Regions from separate parts of the Homo sapiens genome. Here region 1 is linked to region 2. Evidence: fine-mapped expression QTL. A gene starts in region 2. The other region holds a variant in brackets. All regions are shown on one strand. Distances are from middle to middle. Region 1 overlaps RBM19 (RNA binding motif protein 19). Region 2 holds the start of RBM19 (RNA binding motif protein 19).

Region 1 (10,420 bases), 150 kb after region 2:
AGCAGCCACGTTAGGAAGAGAGACTTGGGAACAGCTACACAGGGAGCTAGAACCCCTGCTCCCCCTGTCCCCACCCCAGGAGAGTAAGGGGACGAGGGCCAGCTCTCTGGCATCAGGCTGCTTGGACATGAAACCCCGTCTCCAAGCTCAAGCTGGGAGACCCTGGCCCAGTTTCCTTATCTCCTTGGGCCCAGCCTTCCCCTTGCTAGCTAGTTCTTACTTCATAAGGTTTTAGAGAGAAATAAACGCAGTAATGCATGAAGAGTGCCGGGCATGGTGCTGAGCCCTGTTCCTGCTCTCCCTCCAGGGCTGCTGAGCTAGAATTCCCACCTATGTCTTTCCAAGGGACTGTTCACGGCTTGGGACTTGGTCTCTGTCCTGCCCCATCCTCGTCACTTGGGACCACGAGCCCTGGTTCAGTCACCCAGGGAAGCCTCCCAGCGGCTCATGAAGCATCGAGCTCCAAGCCCAGATGCCAAGCTCCCTGGCTGAGCTGAATGATGTCACTCATGGTGGACGCGTTCTGCTCACGGGCCCAGAGCCCTGTGAAATGCATCAAGGTCCTCTCCGCTGGCCAGCAGCATCCCCAGGCTTCTCTCAGGCGCCCGTGTTCACATTTTCTCCAGCCTGAGACGCAGCCTCCCGCCTGGAAGGGCCTGTGCCAGCACCAGGCAGAGGGCAAGACGGAGAGGGCAGAGCAAGAACTGCACTGCATCTCACTGCAGTCTGAATCTAGACATCGCCATTCCCCGAGGTGCGACCTCAGACTAATGACATCCTGGCTGAGCCTCTGTTTTTCTCTCTAGGAAATGGGGGTGATAATTGTGCCTACCTCAGATAGACAGTGCCAGAATTAAGTGAGTCAAGCCAAGTAAAGCCCAGAGAAGATTCTCATCAGCACTTTTGTTTTCTTCTTCATTTAGAGTCACTGGGTGGGCCTCCAAGTGAGAGTTTGGGAATCTTCAGACTCTGTGCATAAAACATGGTCTGTGCATTTTGGTGGGGATGAGGTTCCAGTCTTCATCCAGTTTTCGGAGTGGCCCAGAGCCCAGGCAAGGCAACACAGAGCTGGCAGCCTGCACGACCAAGCATGCGCCTCGTGTCCTCTAGGGCAGGCACCCCCTTAGCCATCCAAGCTCATCCCTGAGAATTCGTGGAAACAAAAGACACAGAATGGCTCGTTCCCCAGCCGTTTATTTTTAATTTTTTTAGAGACAGGGTGCAGTGGCATGATCATAGCTCACTGCAGCCTCAAGTGGTCCTCCCACCTTAGCCTCCCAAAGCTCTGGAATTACAGGTGTGAGCCATCACGCCCAGCCACATTCTCCAGCTTTTATAGTGGGGTGGCTCACAGAGTCACATCAACCACAGCCTTCTGGATGTGGGGGCTGAACAGTGTCTCTGTTAAACCACACCCAGGCCGACCCTCAGGTGACCAGGGTCCCAAGTTGCCGTAGGTCATGCGGAATGACAGGGCTGGAGACCTACCCCATGCCTTCCCACTGCTCAGATCTGTGAGCTGGATCGTGTCCTGTTCGGCGGCACATGGCTCCTTCTGGCTGAACCTTCTGGTCTATACAATTTGTACTCACATTTCCACACCACCAGAGCCAGCAGGGATGGCTGGCTGATCACCAAAACTCAGGTGTAGACCCACGGGCCTGGTGCAGAGGCAGGCATCTTTTGGCACTGACTTAACTGGCCCAGAGGATGCTTCTAGAACCTCCCCCCAGAGCAGGATTCAGCATCATCCAGGGCTTGGTGCGGGGTGAGCAGACATGGGCTCTGTATTCGGATCTGCCTGGGCTCCGTAACAGTCCACCACTCTCCAGCCTCGTGAGCCTCGGCAAGTGACTTAACCTGCTGAGTCCTCAGTCTCCTCATCTTTAAAATGGAGTGATGCAAGTAGCATCTCCGTCACAAAAGCGTTATCAGGCCCAGGCAGCTGCAGGCCCCTGCCAGGGCTCACACAGTGAAATGATGGGAATCAGGGCTGTCCAACCCTTCCTGCGTCACTGCCTTCCCTGTGGCCAAAAGAAAGCTGGTGAGCTGGGGAAGGTTCAGGAACTGCAGGAGAGTGAAAGGTAGCAAGAGGAGGGAGAGCTTCCAGCCACTCGCCAGGCCTGGCCTGGAATTGGCAGTGGGGAGTGAGGCAGCCTAGAGGCCATATACTGAGCCTGGCCCCTGCACCCCTGCCCCAGGCACGCACTGTTTGGAAGGGGCAGATCTGTGAGCACACAGGAGTAGTGGAGTCCACTCCCACAGAGATCTCAGGGTGCCCCTTCATGCCGCGCCCACCAGACTGCACCCTCATCTCCTCTCTTCCGGCTCAGCTGTCCTCGTGCAGCCAGTGTGGCCTGACTGATCCGTGAGCTGGATCATGTCAGTCTGCAGCTTCAAACCCTCTAGGGCCTCCCTGACGCATGGAAAGTCGAGTCCCGCTGCTCACCCCAGCACCGAGGCCCCACCTCACCTGACCCTGCACTCGCTGTCCCGGCCTTCCTCCCTGCAGGCTCCCACCCCAGGGCCCTCGAGCTGCCTCTTCCCTCTGCCTGGGATGCCCTTCCCTCACATTCTTCCTGCGTGGCGCCTTTTTATTTTCCTTTGAGATCTTAAATCACGCTTGTCCAACCCAAGCTTGGGCTTTGAATGCAGCCCAACACAAATTTGTAAACTTCCTTAAATTTGCAATTTTTTTTTTTTTTTTTAGTTCATCAGTTATCACTAGTGTTATTGTATTTTATGTGTGGTCCAAGACAGTTCTTCCAGGGTGACCCAGGGAAGCCAAAAGTTTGGATGCCCCGGTTTAACTTCTGCTTCCTCACTGAGGGAGACAGACTCCTGATCAGTTCGTCTGCAGTAACCACACCCAGCTCCTCTTTACACCCAGCCCCAACCCCCTATCCCCCATCCCCTGTCCCTCTCAGTCACAGCACTCAGTACAGGGGACAACCTGGAGTGTGAGCAAGATCTCAGTGACCCAGAGCCTTTTACCCTGTCAAAAATAACTGTTTTAAACGGGAACTAGGAAAGCAATTAAGATTTTTGTTACAATCATCATCATTGTTCTAGAATGCAGTAAAGTACAGCCAGGTAGCCATAAAGCGGAGCTCGGGAAAAGTCATTTGCCTGGCCCAGAGGAGGGGCTTCATCTCTTCTTCCTTTGGAGAAGAGGGACTGGTGAAAGCGTCTTACGAGAAATTCCTCCATCCAGCATGTGGGGGTTGAACTGGGAGACTCTAAGCCTTTGAGCCAAGGCAGCAAGGGACTGAGTCACCGCTGTCACTGGGAGGGGGACACGGGAGCTTTCTGAAAGGCGGCTTCGGTTGTTTTTGAAGCAATGATGGGACGTTGGTAGACACAGACACCCAGAAGATCTGGGAGAGAAACTCCAGAAATAACCCACAGAGGTGGCACTGAGGAGGGAGCACTCCTCCAGGGCGGTGAGCCTCCTGACCCGGCTCAGGACTGACTGCTGCAGGGGGCAGGAAACTGCCTCAGCCACATCTCAGGGGGCTGTGACCCTTCCCTGCCGATATGGTCACCAGAGAGCCGGGAAAGAGAACCATAACAGGCTGGACCAGAGCACTTGCGTAGGAAAGGAGAGGTGACACCAAGAGGCCAGAGGGGCCAAAGGGACACAGGGAGGTGGGAGGTCAGTAGGACACGTGCCTCAGAAAAGCCAGAGGCACACATCTGGATGAGGCCTGTGACCCGGTGTTCAGAGTGTGGCTCAGTTAGCTGGGAGGAACGGGGACAGGCTGTTTCCAGAGTGGAGGGCTGGCTGGAACCGCATCTGCTGTCCTCACGTCCGTCTCCCACCCGCTGTGGGTCTCAGGGGCCTGGCCCCTTGAGCTGTGTCTCTGAAACTCCCTTATCAAGAGGCTTGTGTTCAGTTTGGCCAGCAGTGGGCACTAGCGGGCGCCTGGAAGGCTGGTAGAAGAGAAACTCCAGGCATCCCGCCCTCTCCCTCTGTCCCACGTGGCGTCTCCACCAAGGGTCCACCCCTGGATGGGTGAGGAGGGCCCTGGCATCTCTACTATAGGATACACACAGTCAGACTGCAGGAGGGAGATGGGTGGTCAGACAGGTCCTGGAGAACAGACAGGGGTGAGGGACAGTGGGGCCTGGAGGAGGGACAGGAGTGAGAGACAGTGGGGACGGGAGGAGGAGAGCGGAATGCACAGGCCCTGACTCCAAAGGCCTGCGTTAGAATCTCTAGGCTCTCAGTGTCTCCAGGCCTTGCGTTCCATGTCTTTCAAATGGGTGCAGGAATTCCTGCCTCATTGGATTGGTTAAGACAGAAACAGAAGGTCATGAATGGAAAGTAGTTAGCAGACTGTGTCATGCCTAGTGAGTACTTAGTAATGGTAGTTGCCATCATTATTGTGAACATAACTTCAAAACAAGGCAAGCTTGTGGGGCTGCACCCAGCAGATGTCAGGCCAGCTGGGCCCACGTCCAGAGGCTGGGGCGGGATAGGGACTCACAGGGCGCTGCGCCATGTTGGGGAGGAGCCTATGATCCAGGAAGGAGCCTGTAGGAGGTGCCCCCCTGCCCACTGGCCCCAGTAGGCAAACCAGCACCTGGCTCTTCCTGCACAGAACCAAAGTTCAAGCCCAAATGGGCCAATGGTTGTGGGGAAACAGGTGAGCACCCCCACAGGAGCAGCTGCCTGTCTATTGCTGTGTCTGTGTGTCTGTTCCTAACCCTTTCTTTTTTTTTTTTTTTTTTTTTTTTGAGACAAAGTCTCGCTCTGTTCCCCAGGCTGGAGTGCAGTGGCGTGATCTGGGCTCACCTCCCTGGTTCAAGCGATTGTCCCGCCTCAGCCTCCCAAGGCTGGGATTACAGGTATGCACCACCACGCCCGGCTAATTTTGTATTTTTCATAGAGACTGGGTTTCACCATGTAGACCAGGCTGGTCTCGAATTCCTGACCTCAAGTGATCCACCTACCTCGGCCTCCCAAAGTGTGGGGATTACGGGTGTGAGCCACCACGCCCGGCTAATTTTTTGTATTTTTAGTAGACAGGGTTTCACCATGTGGGCCAGGCTGGTCTTGAACTCCCAACCTCAAGTGATCCACCCACCTTGTTCTCCCAAAGTGCTGAGATTACAGGTGTGAGCCACCATGCCCAGCCTGTTCCTAACCCTTTCAACTGGGGGGTCTCAAGTGGGTGAGGACTCCATGGCCACGGCAGCAGAACTGTCTCTTCTGAAAACCAGACTCCGGGGCCCCTGGGTCAGCACCTCTAGGTCATTCCACAGACTTACACAGTTTAAAGAAAGAGCCAGCGAACATGGGGTGATCCTGGGGTGCCACTGGGATCCCAAGCCAGGCCCGGAGGTCTGCCTGTTTCGTCCCCAGAAACTTGAGCTGGCATCCTCCGCTGGTTTGCACTGGGCACGGGGACTGGAGAGCCACCAGGCCACTGA[G/A]CGCAGCATGCTATCACTTCTCAGGAAGTTGTGAGGGTGAGGAGAATAGCCGGGCCCACTCTGCAGAGGGGAGGAACAGGCACAGGCTAGAGGCACGGGCTGATAGAGTGAGTCCTCTCCCTCATTCATTCATTCATTCATTCATTCATCCATCAGACACCTGCTGGGCATCTGCTGTGTGCGAGACACTGTGCTGGGTGCCCCAGACACAAGACAGAAACTCGGGTCGCTCTGTGTGCCTCCACACTGGCCTTCCCTGCTGCGTGGACGCAGGCTCTGTCTCCTAGGCTTTAAGCCCCATGCATCAGGTGGAAGACAATTTCCAGCAGCCTCTGCCCGCTTGTTTTTCCTCCTCTCCTTTTCCTGCCGCCTTGGTCTTTTTTGTCTTTTGTGCAGGGCCGTCTCTCGCAGCGCCCGTCTGTGCTCCGCAGCGTCTAGGAAAGGATTAGTGTGAGCAGAGCACGCAGGCTTTGGTGAACAGAGCCGAGCTTGGTTTCAACATCTAATTCAATTTGTTCTGCCGAGATTGAAATATGAAATGGTTGCCAGTCAAACGTTCAAAGGACGGGGAAGGGAGAGTGAGCGCATGCTGAAATTTAAATTTTAATGAAAATGACTTTAACCCTTTGGTACACCTTGCAAAATGTAACCCATCCTCCCATCCTGTGAAAGCGGCCTCTCGGGTTAGAGCTTTTCCACCCACTTCTCTTCCACTGAGCTTCACTAATAATATGTAATCATTTTTTTCAGCCGTCTTAATAATAAAAGATTAATAGAATGCTTGCATAATAATAATTTATTCACCCATGCCGCCTAGGCCATTGAAATAGTCACCTTGCCTAGATGACTTTCCCAAGCCCCATCCTAGACAAGCCCCGGCCCCTCGTTAGATTCACTCGTCACACCGAACACCTCCCTAGCTCCTTACAGCTGTGAACAGTTTCTGTGTTTTTATTTCATGTCTGACCTCTCTCTCTGGACCGGAAGTCCCAGGAGAGCAAGGTCTGTGCCCATTTTGTGCGTGCTGCATCGTGGAGTAGATGCTTAGTAAATACTCGAGGAAGGAATCAGTGGCCCCACTTTGTCCTTTTAGCAACTGTGAGAGGTAAGTTGATGGGAGATGTAGAAATGGAGAGGTGGGTGACATTCCCAAGATGGCGCTGCACAGAGGGCTGCCACCAGGCTCACACTCAGCTCGCTCTGGCACAAGCCCAAGCCCCTACCTCCCCAGAGCAGTGAGGGCAGTTCCCACATGCAGGGGGCCCGGCCCTATGCTGGGTTTCAGAGGCACACCCTGTGCTCTCGCTCCTGCTGCAGGGCCTGAACTGCTGTCTCCTCTTTACAGCGAGGGCAGGCCCAATGTGTGCCAGCTCGAGCCTTATCCTCAAGGCAGCAAGAGCAGGCCCAATGTGTGCCGACTCGAGCCCTGTCCTCAAGGCGGTGTGGGTGAAGGGCTCTCTCTCCTCACCCCCAGTGAGATTCTCCTATTCAGCTCCTGCTTGCCATGGAACCCCTAGTGTGTTTTTTGTTTTGTTTTTAAATATCAAATGCCATCAGTGCCGGACCAGTGGGCATGCGTGGCAGCTCATTATGGCTGTGGACAGACAGTGCCAGGCATTGACCAGGCATCATAGGTTTTCAGGGTAGAGTGGGATGATGGGGGCAGCCCTGAGACCACCTTCAGGACAGTTGGCTTCCAAGGACTGAGTCCTTGGCTTCATCCTCCAGGGCTCATACAGACCAGGAGCGCAAGGGAGAGGTTCAAACCTGAAACACCCAGCAAATGTGTGTTGAGCTTATGTGCACCAGGCATGGCCATGATGCTGGGAATGCAGGAGTTGACACAGCAGATAAGACTCCCTGGCCTCGAGGAGCTGGTAGTCAAATGTGGGGAGACCCAGACATGAGTGGGTGGAGGATTGCTTCCCTGGCACTGCTGAGGCTCCATTCTCTCTGGGGATGTCTGGCAGGGTCAAGGAAGGGCTCCCTGAGGAGGTGGCATGTGAGCAGAGCTGGGAGGAAGGGGACAGCTCTGTGTGCTCAAGGGAGAGTGAGGGGGACAGCCCGGGCCCCAGAAAAAGCCAGGGAGAGTGGGCAGGGGCCTGCCAACCCGGCTCAGGCTTGGGTGTCAAGTCTGGGCCTGTGGAGGGGAGCAGAGCCGGCCCAGTCTGCCACCATGTTAAGGATCAATAGCAGAAGGTCAAGGACTGAAGCAGGGACAGGTGTTCAGAAGCCATTGCAGTGGCCAGGAGAGCAGGGAGGTGGTGACTCAGAGCAGGGAGGTGGCAGTGGAGGGGTGAGGTGGCCCAAGCCTGTAGACAGACTGAAAATGCAGCCAGTGGCCTAAAGGTTTGGCTGTGGGGTGTGCACAACCAAGGCTAGCGCCCTGGCTCCAGCCCAAGCAGTGGGAAGAAGGAAGCTAGTGTGCGCTGAGACCATTGCAGGAAGAGCTGGCTTGGAGGGAAGCAGGAACTGGCTTTAAACTCGGTAAGCTGTTGACTGCTAAGAGGTGGAGAACACACCGGAGGATACGTGTCTCAGGTTGAGGAGAGAGGGTTGGACCGAGGTATAACAGGAAATTATCCTTCTTTGGTTAAGAAATCTAAAAGGGGCCAGCCTCGGTGCTTCACTCCTGTAATCCCGGCACTTTGGGAGGCTGAGGTGGGAGGATCGCTTTGAGGCCAGGAGTTCGAGACCAGCCTGGGCAACATAGGGAGACCCCATCTCTACAAATAATTTTTAACATTAGCCGGCTGTGGTAGTGTGGGCCTGTGGTCCCAGCTACTCAGGAGGCTGAGGTGGGAGGATCACTTGAGCCCAGGAGGTCGAGGCTGCAGTGAGCCATGATCACACCATCGCACTCCAGCCTGGGCAATGGAGTGAGATGCTGTCTCCCAAAAAAAAAGGGAAAAAAAAAGAAATCTAAGAGTCAGCATGGGAACTAACAGCCCCGTGTAGACAGACCTGGGAAATCTCATAGCTTCAATGCTTCAAGTTAATTTTTTTATTTTATTTTTTTTTTTTTTGAGATGGAGTCTCACTCTGTCGCCCAGCCTGGAGTGCAGTGGCGCGATCTTGGCTCACTGCAGCCCCTGCCTCTCTGGGTTCAAGCAGTCCTCCCACTTCATCCTCCCAAGTAGCTGAGATTACAGGCATGCACCACTATGCCTGGCTAAGTTTTGTATCTTTAGTAGAGGTGAGGTTTTGCCATGTTGGCCAGACTGGTCATGAACTCCTGACCTCAGATAATCCTCCTGCCTCGTCCTCCCAAAGTGCTGGGATTACAGGCATGAGCCACTGCACAGGCCTCAAGTTCATTTTGAAGCCACTTCTAGATGGTTCCAAACTCCTTTGGCCCCAGAACCCGTTTCCCAAACAAATGTCTTAAACAGATTAAGCAAAACTGCTTTGTTCCAAGTCAGGGTACAGGCCTGACCTCCCCCACCCAGACTCCTCTTCCCCCTCAACACCTCAGTGATTTGAAAAACACTGACCTAGGCCTGGCGCGGTGGCTTACGCCTGTAATCCCAGCACTTTGGGAGGCCAAGGTGGGTCATCGCAAAGTCAGGAGATGGAGACCATCCTGGCTAACATGGTGAAACCCCATCTCTACTAAAAATATAAAAAATTAGCCGGGCATGGTGGCACGTGCCTGTAGTCCCAGCTACTCGGGAGGCTGAGGCAGGAGAATCACTTGAACCCGGGAGGTAGAGGTTGCAGTGAGCCGAGATCGTGCCACTGCTCTCCAGCCTGGACAACAGAGTGAGACTCCATCTCGAAAAAAAATATATTGAACTAAAAAATGTCTCCCAAAGCACAGAGCACGGACCTCTGTGCTTCAGGAGATGGTTTAGGTGGCCCACACACTTTTCTTTTTAATTTTTAACTCACAAGTTTATTTTCACATGTATGCCACAAATACAAACCTGTATTTGTTTAGGTCATCAAACCTATGGTGTTGCTAAGCTCTAAGGAATACCGGTGAATTCGTATAAAGAAAAGTATTAAAAACATGAATTTCGTGAGGCAAAGTAGTAAAGAAGCGACGTGAATGATCAAAATCAGGGGTTGGCAAACCATGGCCCTCTTTTTTTTTTTTTTTTTTTGTGCTGCTGTTGCCTGGTTTTGTGAATAAAGTTTTATTGGAATACAGCCATGCCCATTAGTTTACATATTGTCAATAGTTGCTGCATGTAACAGAGTTGAGTAGCAACAGAGACCTTATGACCTGCAAAGCCTAAAATATTTACCATCTGGCCCTTTGCATCAAGTGCAGTGACCCCGATCTAAAGCAAACCCCCATCATTTTACAGATTAGAAAGCCCAGAGTGTCTTCTACAAGGTCACACTGTGGCAGAATTCCCCGTTCCGGCTCTTTCACCTCTGCTATGCTGCCTCGGCACATGTGCTGAGTAAAACTTTATTGACAAGACCAGGCAACAGTAGCAGGAAAAAGAAAAACGAGCTGTGGTTTGGCGACCCCTGATTTCAATCATTCATACCCCTTCTTTACTACTTTGCCACTTAGCCACAATGTGACCTTGAGCAACCTCCTTGACCTCTCTGTGCCTGTGTTCTCACCTGTGAACCGAGAACAGGACAGACTCCTGCAGATGCCAGGATGAAGTGAAGGCTGAGAATGGCGCCGGCCCCACATGAGCACTACACAAGCCTCAGCTGTTGTTACCCCATCCCCCCAACATAAAGGCAGTGTCCTTCTGCACCCCGACAGGCTTGGGCCATCACCCGCTGCCCAGGAGGCCAGGGTATTTCAGCACAAGCCCCGGGCCAAGGCCTTCTGGATCGTCAGCAAAGTAAAAGGGGCCCTGCAATCTAATTATAGCATTGCTAGAAGCCAGGGCCGCATTCCCCTCCAGCTTCCTTAATAAGCCCCACTTCCCCATAATTGCAGATTTCATGGAAGCGGTCCACTGGGGCCACCATGTCCCATCCTTGGGCTTAGGCCAATAGCAGACATTTTGTT
Region 2 (10,420 bases):
CCAGCACTTTGGGAGGCCAAAGCGAGAGGATCACTTGAGCCCAGAAATTTGAGACCAGCCTGGGCAACAAAGCCAGACCCTGTCTCTACAAAAAATTTAAAAATTAGCTGGGTGTGGTAATGCATGCATGTAGTCCCACCCACTTCGGAGGCTGAGGAAGGAGGATCACTTGTGCTCAGGAGATCAAGGCAGCAGTAAGGCCTGATCACACCACAGCACTCCAGTCTGGGCAACAGAGCAAGACCTTGTCTCAAAAAAAAAAAAAAAAAAAAAAAAAAGGCCAGACACAGTCACTCATGCCTGTAATCCAAGCACTTTGGGAGGCCAAGGCAGGTGGATCACTTGAGGTCTGGAATTTGAGACCAGCCTGGCCAACACAGTGAAACCCATCTGTAATAAAAATACAAACAATTAGCCAGGCACGGTGGTGTGCACCTATAATCCCAGTTACCGTCTCAAAAAAAAAAAAAGACAAAACCCAAAATAAATACATAAAGATTTACTGGGCTCCCTACAATTTCACCCCTCCAAAGCCATCCTGCAGAAATGCCCACAATTAATATACATGCTTGTTGACTTTACCCTATGGTTAAGTATAAATATATGCAGATGTAGTTTATACATGATTAACATTTTAATGTATTAAAAATAATAGGTAATTTTTTCATAATGAAATATCAAAATTATAAAAGGTTACTCAAGGTAAAGGACATTTCCATCCATCCGTATACTCACTTCCTCGGTCCCCTCCCCAGAAGCAACTGCTGTTACCACTTCCTCATGTATCTTTTGAGATCGCCTTTGCTTACATAAATCATATATAGTGTCCCCTCCAAATTCCTATGTTGGAGTCTTAACTTTTCATACCTCACAAAGTGATGTTATTTGGAAATAGAGTGTTTACAGAGGTAACTATATTAAAATGAGGTCATTAGAATTAGCTTTAATCCAATGTCTTTTAAAATGGGGAAGTTTGAACATGAACTCATGGACACAGGGAGACTGTCATGTGGAGATGAAGGCTGAGATCGGGGTGACATGTCTACAGGCCAAAGAGTGTCAAAGATTGCCAGCACACCACCAGAAGTGAGACAGGGAGGAACAGATTCAACCTCACGGCTCTCAGAAGGAACCGGCGCTGCCAACACCTTCATCTCGAACTTCTAGCCTTCAGAACTGCAAGACAATACATTTGGAAATTTACGACTACCCTGGCCTACAAACATGACAAGTATCTATGTATCCTCACCCATCTCCCTCCTTTTTTTGTGTGTGTGTTTTGTTTTTACCTAAGTGAAAGCATACATAATACATTATTTAGTATATTGCTGGTTTTCACTTAACAATATATTTTGGAGATTGTCCCATGTCCCATGTGCTAGTTCTTCTCTAACAGCCCATCTCCCATTCCCTGAGCCTGCTCCTCCACTTTGCTCTGTGCCCCAGATGCAATCTGTGTGCACTGCAACATCTGTGATCATGCCTCCAGCTTCCCATTGGTTCGGCCAAGGGGAGGCTCCAGTAGGAAACTGCAGTTGGGAAGAGAAAGAGGGGACAGTGTATTTATCCCCGACACACACACACCTGTGGTTCCACAGTGGCTGTATCTCTCTATAGCTCTAGTCCTTAAAGTACGTCCCTCTTCCATGGCTCCTGGCATCACTGAAGCTCAGGAATGACATGTCCTACTCTGCCCTTCAGCCCCAGGGGTGGTGATAGCTCCCCACTGTTGCCAGGCCCTGGGGTTTGGCCATCCTTTGTTGGTTCCCTTAACCCTTCCTGTATTCATTTGCTGCAGGTGCTGTCTCAAATTACCACAAATTAGATGGCATAACAATGCAAAGTTATTCTCTCACATTTCTGGAGGCCAGAATCCCCCAAAGCACCAGCAGGGCCATGCTCCCTCCAAAACCTCCAAGGGAGAACGCTTCCTTGCTTCTTTCAGCTTCTGGTGGCTCCAGGTCTTCGTTGACTTGTGACTGCATCACTCCAGACTCTACCTCCACCTACACATGACGTTCTCTGTGTGTCCTTTAAAAGGACATGTGTCATTGGATTTAGGGTCTACCAGGATAATTCAGGATGATCTCATTTTGAGACCCTTAAGTACATTTGCAAAGACCCTTGATATGGTTTGGCTGTGTCCCCACCAAATCTCATCTTGAATTGTAGCTCCCATAATCCCCACGTGTCCTGGGAGGGACCCAGTGGGAGATAATTGAATTATGGGGGTGGTTTCCCCATACTGTTTTCGTGGTAGTGAATAAGTCTCACGAGATCTGATGGTTTTATAAGGGGAAAGCCTTTCACTTGGTTCTCATTCTCTCTTTGCCTGCCACCAGGTAAGACATCCCTTGCTCTTCCACCATGATTGTGAGGCCTCCCCAGCCATGTGGAACTGTGAGTCCATTAAATCTCTTTCCTTTATAAATTACCCAGTCTCAGGTATGTCTTCATTAGCAGCGTGAGAACAAACTAATACAACACTTTTTTGCAAATAAAGTCACATTTACAGCTTCCAGGGGTCAGGATGCCCCCAGTGTGTGTGGTGGTGAGGGGACAGGGGATCATTCATCCCACTACACTGCCCACCCTTCTGTAAATAGCTTTTTGTCCAGATTTGCTTTTGTTAAATCCTTTTGAGTATACCTCTGTGTCCTGCTGACTGATGCATTTCCTTCAAAAACATTTATAGCTACATACCTACCGTTTTTTAACAACTGCATAGAATTCTGTTGAATGGACAGACCTTAATTTACAATTAGCATTTAATGAACTCCTATTACCTGTCTCCTCCTGGTGCCCAGTGTGATGCTTTGCAAAGATGGATCTAAGGATGCCCCTATGGCAACATAATGTAGAAAGAACAAGTGGCCTCATCTATAACTCTGAACCTACACTGTGCGCTCCTCACCAGCGAGTTCTGTAGGTTTATGCTGTGGCAGATGCATGAGCTCCCTGCATTTGGGGCTCAGTAGGAAAGAGGCATATTCGAGGATGCCATGTTTGAGCTGGTCTTAGAGAGGGGATGGGAATGGGTTCAGAAAGATATTCCAGTGGCCAAAAGCACATGAAAGATGCTGTTTCATTAGTTATCGGGGAAATGCAAATCAAAACATTGAGTCACCACTGTACACCCACTAGAGTGGCTATGATTATAAAGACCCAATAACAAACACTGGAGGAGATGTGGAGATATTTGAACCTTCATATACCGCTGGTAGGAATATAAAATGGGGAAGCCACTTTGGATAACAGGTTAGCAGGTTCTAAAAAGGTTAAGCATAGAGTTACCATATGATCAGGCAATCCTACTCCTAGGAATATATCCAAGAGAAATAAGAACATATGCCCACACAGGAACTTACAGGTAAATGTTCACGGCAAGATTATTCACAGTAGCCACAAAGCGGAAACAACCCAAATGTCCATCATCAACTGATGAATAAATAAAATGTAATACATCCATATATGTAATACTATTCAGCAAAAAAAGTGTGGTGGCTCACGTCTGTAATCCCAGCACTTTGAAAGTTCAAGGCAGGTGGATTGCTTGAGCCCAGGAGTTCAAGACCAGCCTGGGCAACATGTTGAAACCTCGCCTCTACCAAAAAATTACCAAAAAAAAAAAATTAGCCAGGCATGGTGGCATGTGCCTGTAGTCCCAGCTGCTCAGGAGGCTGAGGTGGGAGGATGGCTTGAGCCTGGGAGGCGGAGGTTGCAGTGAGCTGAGATTGTGCCACTGCACTCCAGTCGGGGTGACAGAGCCCGACCCTGTCTCAAATAAATAAACAGATAAATAAAGTGCTGATTCATGCTGCAACATGGAAGAACTTTGAAAACATTATGCTAAGTGAAAGAAGTCAATTACAAAAGACTACATATTGTATTATTCCATTTACATGAAATGTCCATAACAGACAAATCCATAGAGACGGAAAGTAGATTAGTGGTTATCAGAGGGAAGGGAGAGGGAGGAATTGGAAGGTTATAGCTAAAGGGTGTGGTGTTTCTTTGGGGGTAATGAAAATGTCCTAGCATTGATTGTGGTGATGGCTGCACACCTCTGTAAATATAGTCAGCACCATTGAATTGTGCACTTTAAGTGGGTGAATTGCATGGTTTGTGATAAAGCTGTTAACAATAAGAAGGGGGGACGGAATGTCTTTTAGGTGAAGGAAATTGCAGAAGCTTGGCAGCAACGTCCAGTGCAGCTGAGGCACTGTGGGGAAACAGAAAGGAAATACCGTCATTTAAGAGTGAAAATAGGGGTTTTCATAGGATGTCTCCATCCAAGAGTAGGTACCGAGAATGCTCAGAGAAGCAATAGGAAAATAACATCCCTTTCACGTTCTCACCTCCTTAACCCCTAGCATAATAAAGAATTATTCCCATTTTATAGAAGTAGACACAAAGGCTCAGAGGCCATTTTGGCCAAGATCTCTCAGCTAGAAGATTGGCCAGCTGAGAGTTCCAAACATTAGGAAGGGAGGCAAAATGCTTGTGGGGCTGGGGTTGAAGGCGTAGAGACTCATTGTAGGGCCCTAGGCAGTCCCTAGCTCGAATCTGACTTTCCAATTCATAGTTATAAGACTTTGAGCAAGCTGCTTTACACGCACGATTCCCAGTTTATCTGCCTGCAAAATGAGAGCGTTTATTTCCAACATGTTCATTCCAAGTATTTACACAAAAGGCTCAATACTTGATTTGTGTTGGCTGGCAATCTCTCTAAACTTCACTTTCCCCATTTCTACGAGGAAGGCAAGGGTCCCTAATCTTGCCCCCGTTCTCAGGGGAGTCCTAAGGCTCAATAATAAAAATAAAATAAGAAAAAGGAGAGAACGCGATTGCCCGGTTGGCGCGACCCTTAACACCGAGCTAAACCGGCGCATGTTAGGGACCGGCGCCCCCTGCCGCCTTCTCCGCTGCATTGGCGTCTCACAGAATCCGCCCAAGGCCCTGCGCCTGCGCAAAATGCAAGCGCCCAGGCCCACCCCTTGTGGGGTGTGACCTCCCTGAGTAGTTTTGGATTAGCCACGCCTACTTCCGGACAGGTCAGGCCAAGGTCTCAGCCACGTGACTGTGTTCCGGCTCGGTAAAGATGGCGGCGCCCAGGGCGGTAGCGTGAAACTTGGTGGAAGACGCTGACCAGTCGTGTTGGAATCAAAACAGCGGGGACCCTGCGCCATGTCGCGACTGATCGTGAAGAATCTCCCGAATGGGGTGAGTGCAGAGGCAGGACTTGGGAATCTGAAATGAGACCAGCCGGGAGCTGTGAGGTAGGGAAGAGATGCCTGGAGGTGATCGAAGAATTTTTGCTCTGGGGCAGGACTCCGGGCCAATTCTGAACTCAAAGGGGGCGGGATCCTGGGCTTATCCCCATTTGATCCCGAGGAAAGAGGAATAGTGACTGCTTACGGTTTCACGGCCGGTTGTTTGGTACCTGACTCCTAACACACCTCTTCTCGGGGAGATGACAACTCCCACCTTGTGGCGAATACCCTGCTCCCACAACCTCTTTCATTCGATCACTGTTTTTTAGTTGTTGACCCGGGACATGGTCCGACACTGTATTTATATTCCTCTCCCAGTCTGGAAACTGTTGGGGAAGACATGGGGAATATTAATCTGCGGACCTGCGTTCCAATTCCCACTCCCATCCTTAGGGCAAGTAGGAATACGGAGTGGGTAAAGGGCTTTACAGCATTTATCCAGTAAGTGGGGAGTGGTGACCCAGCCATACTTTTTTGTTTCCCTGGAGCCCAGCGCAGAACCCGACACGTGGTAGGCAAAATAGGTGAATGTACGTAATATTAGATGATTAGATGCGGTGGGCTCGAATGGATCATCCTTTTTTCTCTCTCTCGCTGTTTTTTGTTCTGTTTTGTTTTTTTGTTTTTAAATGGATTACTGCTCCTTCCATCAGGTTAGACAGTGTCTCTTGATGCCTCGCTTTGTGGGATGAGGATTTTTAGCGTAGCTGCACTTCCTTTCCCTCCCAAATTCAGCTTTGTTGTGTTTCAAGTGTAGTTGATTCTCTTATCATTGTTTGTCTTATCTCTTTTTTTTCTCTCTCTTTCATGGCTTTTTTTGGTTTTGTTTTTTGTTTTTTTCTTTTTTTGTTTTTTTTTTTTAAACGGAGTCTGGCTCTGTCTCCCAGGCTGGACTGCGGTGGAGCAATCTCGGCAGTCTCGGCTCACTGCAACTTTTGCCTCCCGGGTTCTAGCGATGCTCCTGCCTCAGCCTCCCAAGTAGCTGGGACTACAGACACGCGCCACCAAGCCCGACTAATTTTTTTATTTTTAGTAGAGACATGGGGTTTCGCCATGTTGGACAAGTTGGTCTCGAACTCCTGACCTCAGGTGATCCACCGCCTCGGCCTCCCAAAGTGCTGGGATTACAGGCGTGAGCCACTGCACCTGGCCCCCATTTCTGTTCTAATGTTGTGAGTTTTTTCCTTTCCTTTTTTTTTTTTCATTTGTCAGGTGGGACAAAGGAACTTTGTAACACACAGTTTTCAAAATTCAAACAGTATAGTAGTGTATAACATGAGTAGCAAAGTCTTTGCTCTGTCCTACCTTCCCTCTCTGTCCAGGAGTAACCATCTTCATTGATTTGTTTTTGGGACTCCTCACATGTATCTCTGTATATTTGAGGAGTGTACTTTCCTCCTTTTGACCTGCCTGCCCCAGTGACTATCTGCTAGGCCTCAACTGTGAAAAATAAGGAATTTAGATCATCTGTTCCTCCTCTCCAGTGTCTGTAATATTCTTGTTTTTAATTATCCTGTTATAATCTCTGAGTAGTATACTTAAAAATATCTATTACTCATCCATCCATCAGGTTAGACATGTCTCTTGATGCCTTGCTTTGTGCGATGAGGATTTTTAGCGTGGCTGCACTTCCTTTTCTTCCCAAATTCAGCTTTGTTGCACTTCACAGTGTAGTTGACTCTCTTATCATTGTTTGTCTTATCTCATGAATGAAAGAATAATAAAAACAAGGGCAGTTGCAGCTGACACTTGGAGAGTTTACTGTGTGCCAGGCACTGTTCCAGGTGCTTTAGGTAAAGTAACATTTAATCCTCACCATATCCCTGTGAGGTAAGTTTTATTTTTACGCCCATTTTAAAGGTAAAGAAACCAAGATACAGCGAGGTACAGGGATTTGCCTGAGGTCACACACTGGTGTAATTTATAGAGCAGGGATTGAATTGAGCAATCTTTAGTTTAGGGATTGAATTGAGGAAATAATTAGTAGTGAGTACTTGTGATATTGCTGACACTGTAGATAGAGGTGGATAAGCCTGTGTCCTTATTTTTAATGGGACTTGCAGGCTAGCAGAAAAGAGAGGCACCAGATCATTACGATGCAAGGTGCATCACTGACATGTGAACCGAGTGCTGTGGGAGCACAGTGAGGGTTGGTTATCTCGTCCATCTAAGGCATCTAAGAAAGGCCTCCTGGAATAGGAGATGATTGAACTGAGAATGAGGAGTTAGCCAGGGCCTGTCTTGGGAAATATCACCCAGAGGGGACAACCAAAGTAAAACCTCGGAAGTGAGAAGGCTGTGAGAAATTTGTCAAAGCGTGGTGCTGAAGAGGTTGGTCAGGGCAGATCTTGAAGAATTGCATGTTTTCCTTTAGGTGCTCGTCCTTGAGACTTTGGTGCCAGAAAGTCACCGAAAGGTTTTTGGCAAAGGAATGATGGATTCAGACTTGAGCCAGGTCTCTCCCAGGCACTGAGGAATTGAATTCACTGTCTTATATTTCTGAATTGAGTCACAAACCTTGATTCTGTAGGCCTTGGGCAGATCATTTATCCCTTATGAGTTTCATTTTCTCTATAAAATGTGGACAAAAATTCCTAACTCACAGTGTGATTGAGATTTTGATTAGATCAGTTAGTAAGAAGCTACCTCAGAAAATGTCATCTTCTGGCTGGACTGCCAAGGCCTCTAGCTTCTTGCATTTTCAAACTTATTTTGGCTGTTCGTGGGGCCCTGAATGTCCCCTCAACTCCACTACCACACACACAAATATCCCAGTATCTGCTTAGAAAACTGAGTTGTGAGGGTAGCCTGGCTGCAGTGAAGATGGTGAGAAGCCAGGAGCCTGTTTTCCATAGTGTGGGGCTTCTTGACCAAATTATAATAATAGTGTGTTAGTTTTTTAGTGCAGCTATAGCAAATTAGCACAAACTTAGTGGCTTAAACAATCCAGACAATCCTTATCTTACAGTTTTGCAGGTCAGAAATCCTAAAATCAAGGCTTTGGCAGGGCTGCAGTCCTTCTGGAAGCTCTGTGGGAATATCTGTCCCTTTGCCTTTTTTCAGCTTCTAGAAGCACCTGCCTTCCTTGGTTCATAGCTATATACTCCATATTTGGAGCCAATAGCATAGCATCTTCCAATCTTTCTGTTTCCATCTTCTCTGATCTTCCCGCCTCCCTCTCATAAGGACCCTTGAGGTGACATTGGACCTGGCTGCATAATCCAGATCATCTCCCCATCTCCATATCAGTCACACCTGACAAGTCCCTTTTGCCTTGTAAGGTAACATATCCACAGTTTCCAGGGATTAGGATGTGGGCATCTTTTGGGGGGGCTTTATTAACAAAGATATATATAGCTTACCATGCCTGTTCATTCTTTCATTTATTCCTACAAGTATTTATTAGGTATCTACTATGTAGCAGACGTAATACTGCTTCTGTAATTGGTCTTATCCTCATAGGAGCCCCATAGGGTAGGAAGATGTCATTTGCAGCCATTATGAGTCATGATTTCCACATCAGTGAGTGGTTAAGGGACTTTCTCAAGGCCACACAACTCGTGCTAGAGTCAGAGCTGGAACCTGTTGTAACTAGAAAAGTACACTCTGCCCCTCTTCATCTAAGGCCACCCTTGGAGAATCTCGTGGCCTCAGGTTTCCAGCCCATTTTGTCCCCTTGCTCTGGGGACTTTCCAGTTCGTCTCTCATTCCTTTCCCTCTGTCCTAGATGAAGGAGGAGCGTTTCAGGCAGCTGTTTGCCGCCTTCGGCACGCTGACAGACTGCAGCCTGAAGTTCACCAAAGATGGCAAGTTCCGCAAGTTTGGTTTTATTGGCTTCAAGTCCGAGGAAGAGGCCCAGAAGGCACAGAAGCATTTCAACAAGAGCTTCATCGACACATCCCGGATCACAGTGAGTGGGCAGGAGTCTCACCCTTACCTTCCTGTCAAGTGTGACGTTGTTTGATCTTTCACTCAGCACTTGAGTTCAAAGACCGTCCCTCTTCACTTTGTGATGTCTTTGGTTTTCTTCCTCACCGATTCACACACTTTCATGTGCATACAAATCACCTGAGAGCTTATTATAACAGCTTCCTGGGCCCGTCCCCAGAGCATCTGATTCAGTGCATGGAGTCAGGACCCAAGAATTCACACATCCAACAAGCCCTCAGGTGACGACCATGCTGCTGGTCTGAGGCCCACACCTTGAGAACCACAGCTCTACCTCATCCATTCACTCATGCATTTAGCAAGCACTCAATGATGCTGGGAGTTTAGAGAAAAAGGTGATGCCTCAGCCCCTGTCCTCATGGAGCCTGCTGTCTCTGGGCAGGCAGGGGGCTGACAGGTCAGCAGGCTGCTTTGGCTCAGTGACATCAGTGCTATGATAGGGTGAGCCCCAGGGACTGTGGGAGAACAAAGATCTATAGCCGGACCAGGGAGGAGTCAGGAAAGCTTCCTGGAGGAGTGGGCTCCACTCAGGTCACTCGTGTATTTAGTGACTTCGTAAAAACATCTCTAATGCTTTGTTGAGAAGGAAAAAACAGATGATGGATAAATATATATATGTCTCGTGATCCTATATAGACACAATCGTATTCCTCTATCCATACATATATGATAAATGCATAGAAGGCCATAGGATAGGATTTGTACCAAAATACTAATCATTCCTCTCCATGAGTGATAGGAATTGGAGTACATCTTTTTTAACTTCCATTGTACTTTTGTATATTATTTGAATTTTGTACCGTGAGCATGTCATTATTATAGAGATAACAAGCCTATTTTGGAAGTGTGCACAAAAGGGATTGTAACTGGCCAGGTGTGGTGGCTCCTGCCTATAATACAAGCACTTTGGGAGGCTGAGGTGGGAGGATCACTTGAAGCCAGGAGTTCAAGACCAGCCTGTGCAACATAGCAAGACTGCGTCTTTACAAAAATAAAAAAAAAAATTAGCCGGGCATGGTGACATGTGCCTGGAGTCCTAGGTATTCAGAAGGCTGAGACAAGAGGATCACTTGAGCCCAAGAGTTTGAGGCTGCAGTGAGCTATGATCATGCCACTGCAGTCCAGCCTGGGCAACGGAGTGAGACCCTGTGTCTTAAAAAGGATTGCAACCAGATGGCAGCTCCTTCCCCCAGGGGCAG

Evidence for each region.
Region 1: its variant is fine-mapped to the expression of RBM19 in whole blood (TOPMed, PIP above 0.99). The same link has a PIP of 0.9 or more in subcutaneous fat.

Annotation. Positions count from the first base shown.
Region 1 is chr12:113,812,534-113,822,953 of GRCh38, reverse strand. RBM19 (RNA binding motif protein 19) reads left to right here. Exons shown (of 24, transcript NM_016196.4): 24 at 1-897. Among named protein-coding and RNA genes, the nearest start is that of LINC01234, 44 kb to the right of the region's middle. RefSeq lists enhancers at 3,153-4,078, 4,079-5,006. The variant G/A (reference allele first, on the strand shown) is at 5,437.
Region 2 is chr12:113,960,995-113,971,414 of GRCh38, reverse strand. It overlaps RBM19 (RNA binding motif protein 19), which reads left to right and starts at 5,090. Exons shown (of 24, transcript NM_016196.4): 1 at 5,090-5,223; 2 at 9,001-9,183. The coding sequence starts at 5,188. RefSeq lists enhancers at 4,784-4,853, 4,812-5,739, 5,740-6,668, 8,639-8,688, 8,829-8,878.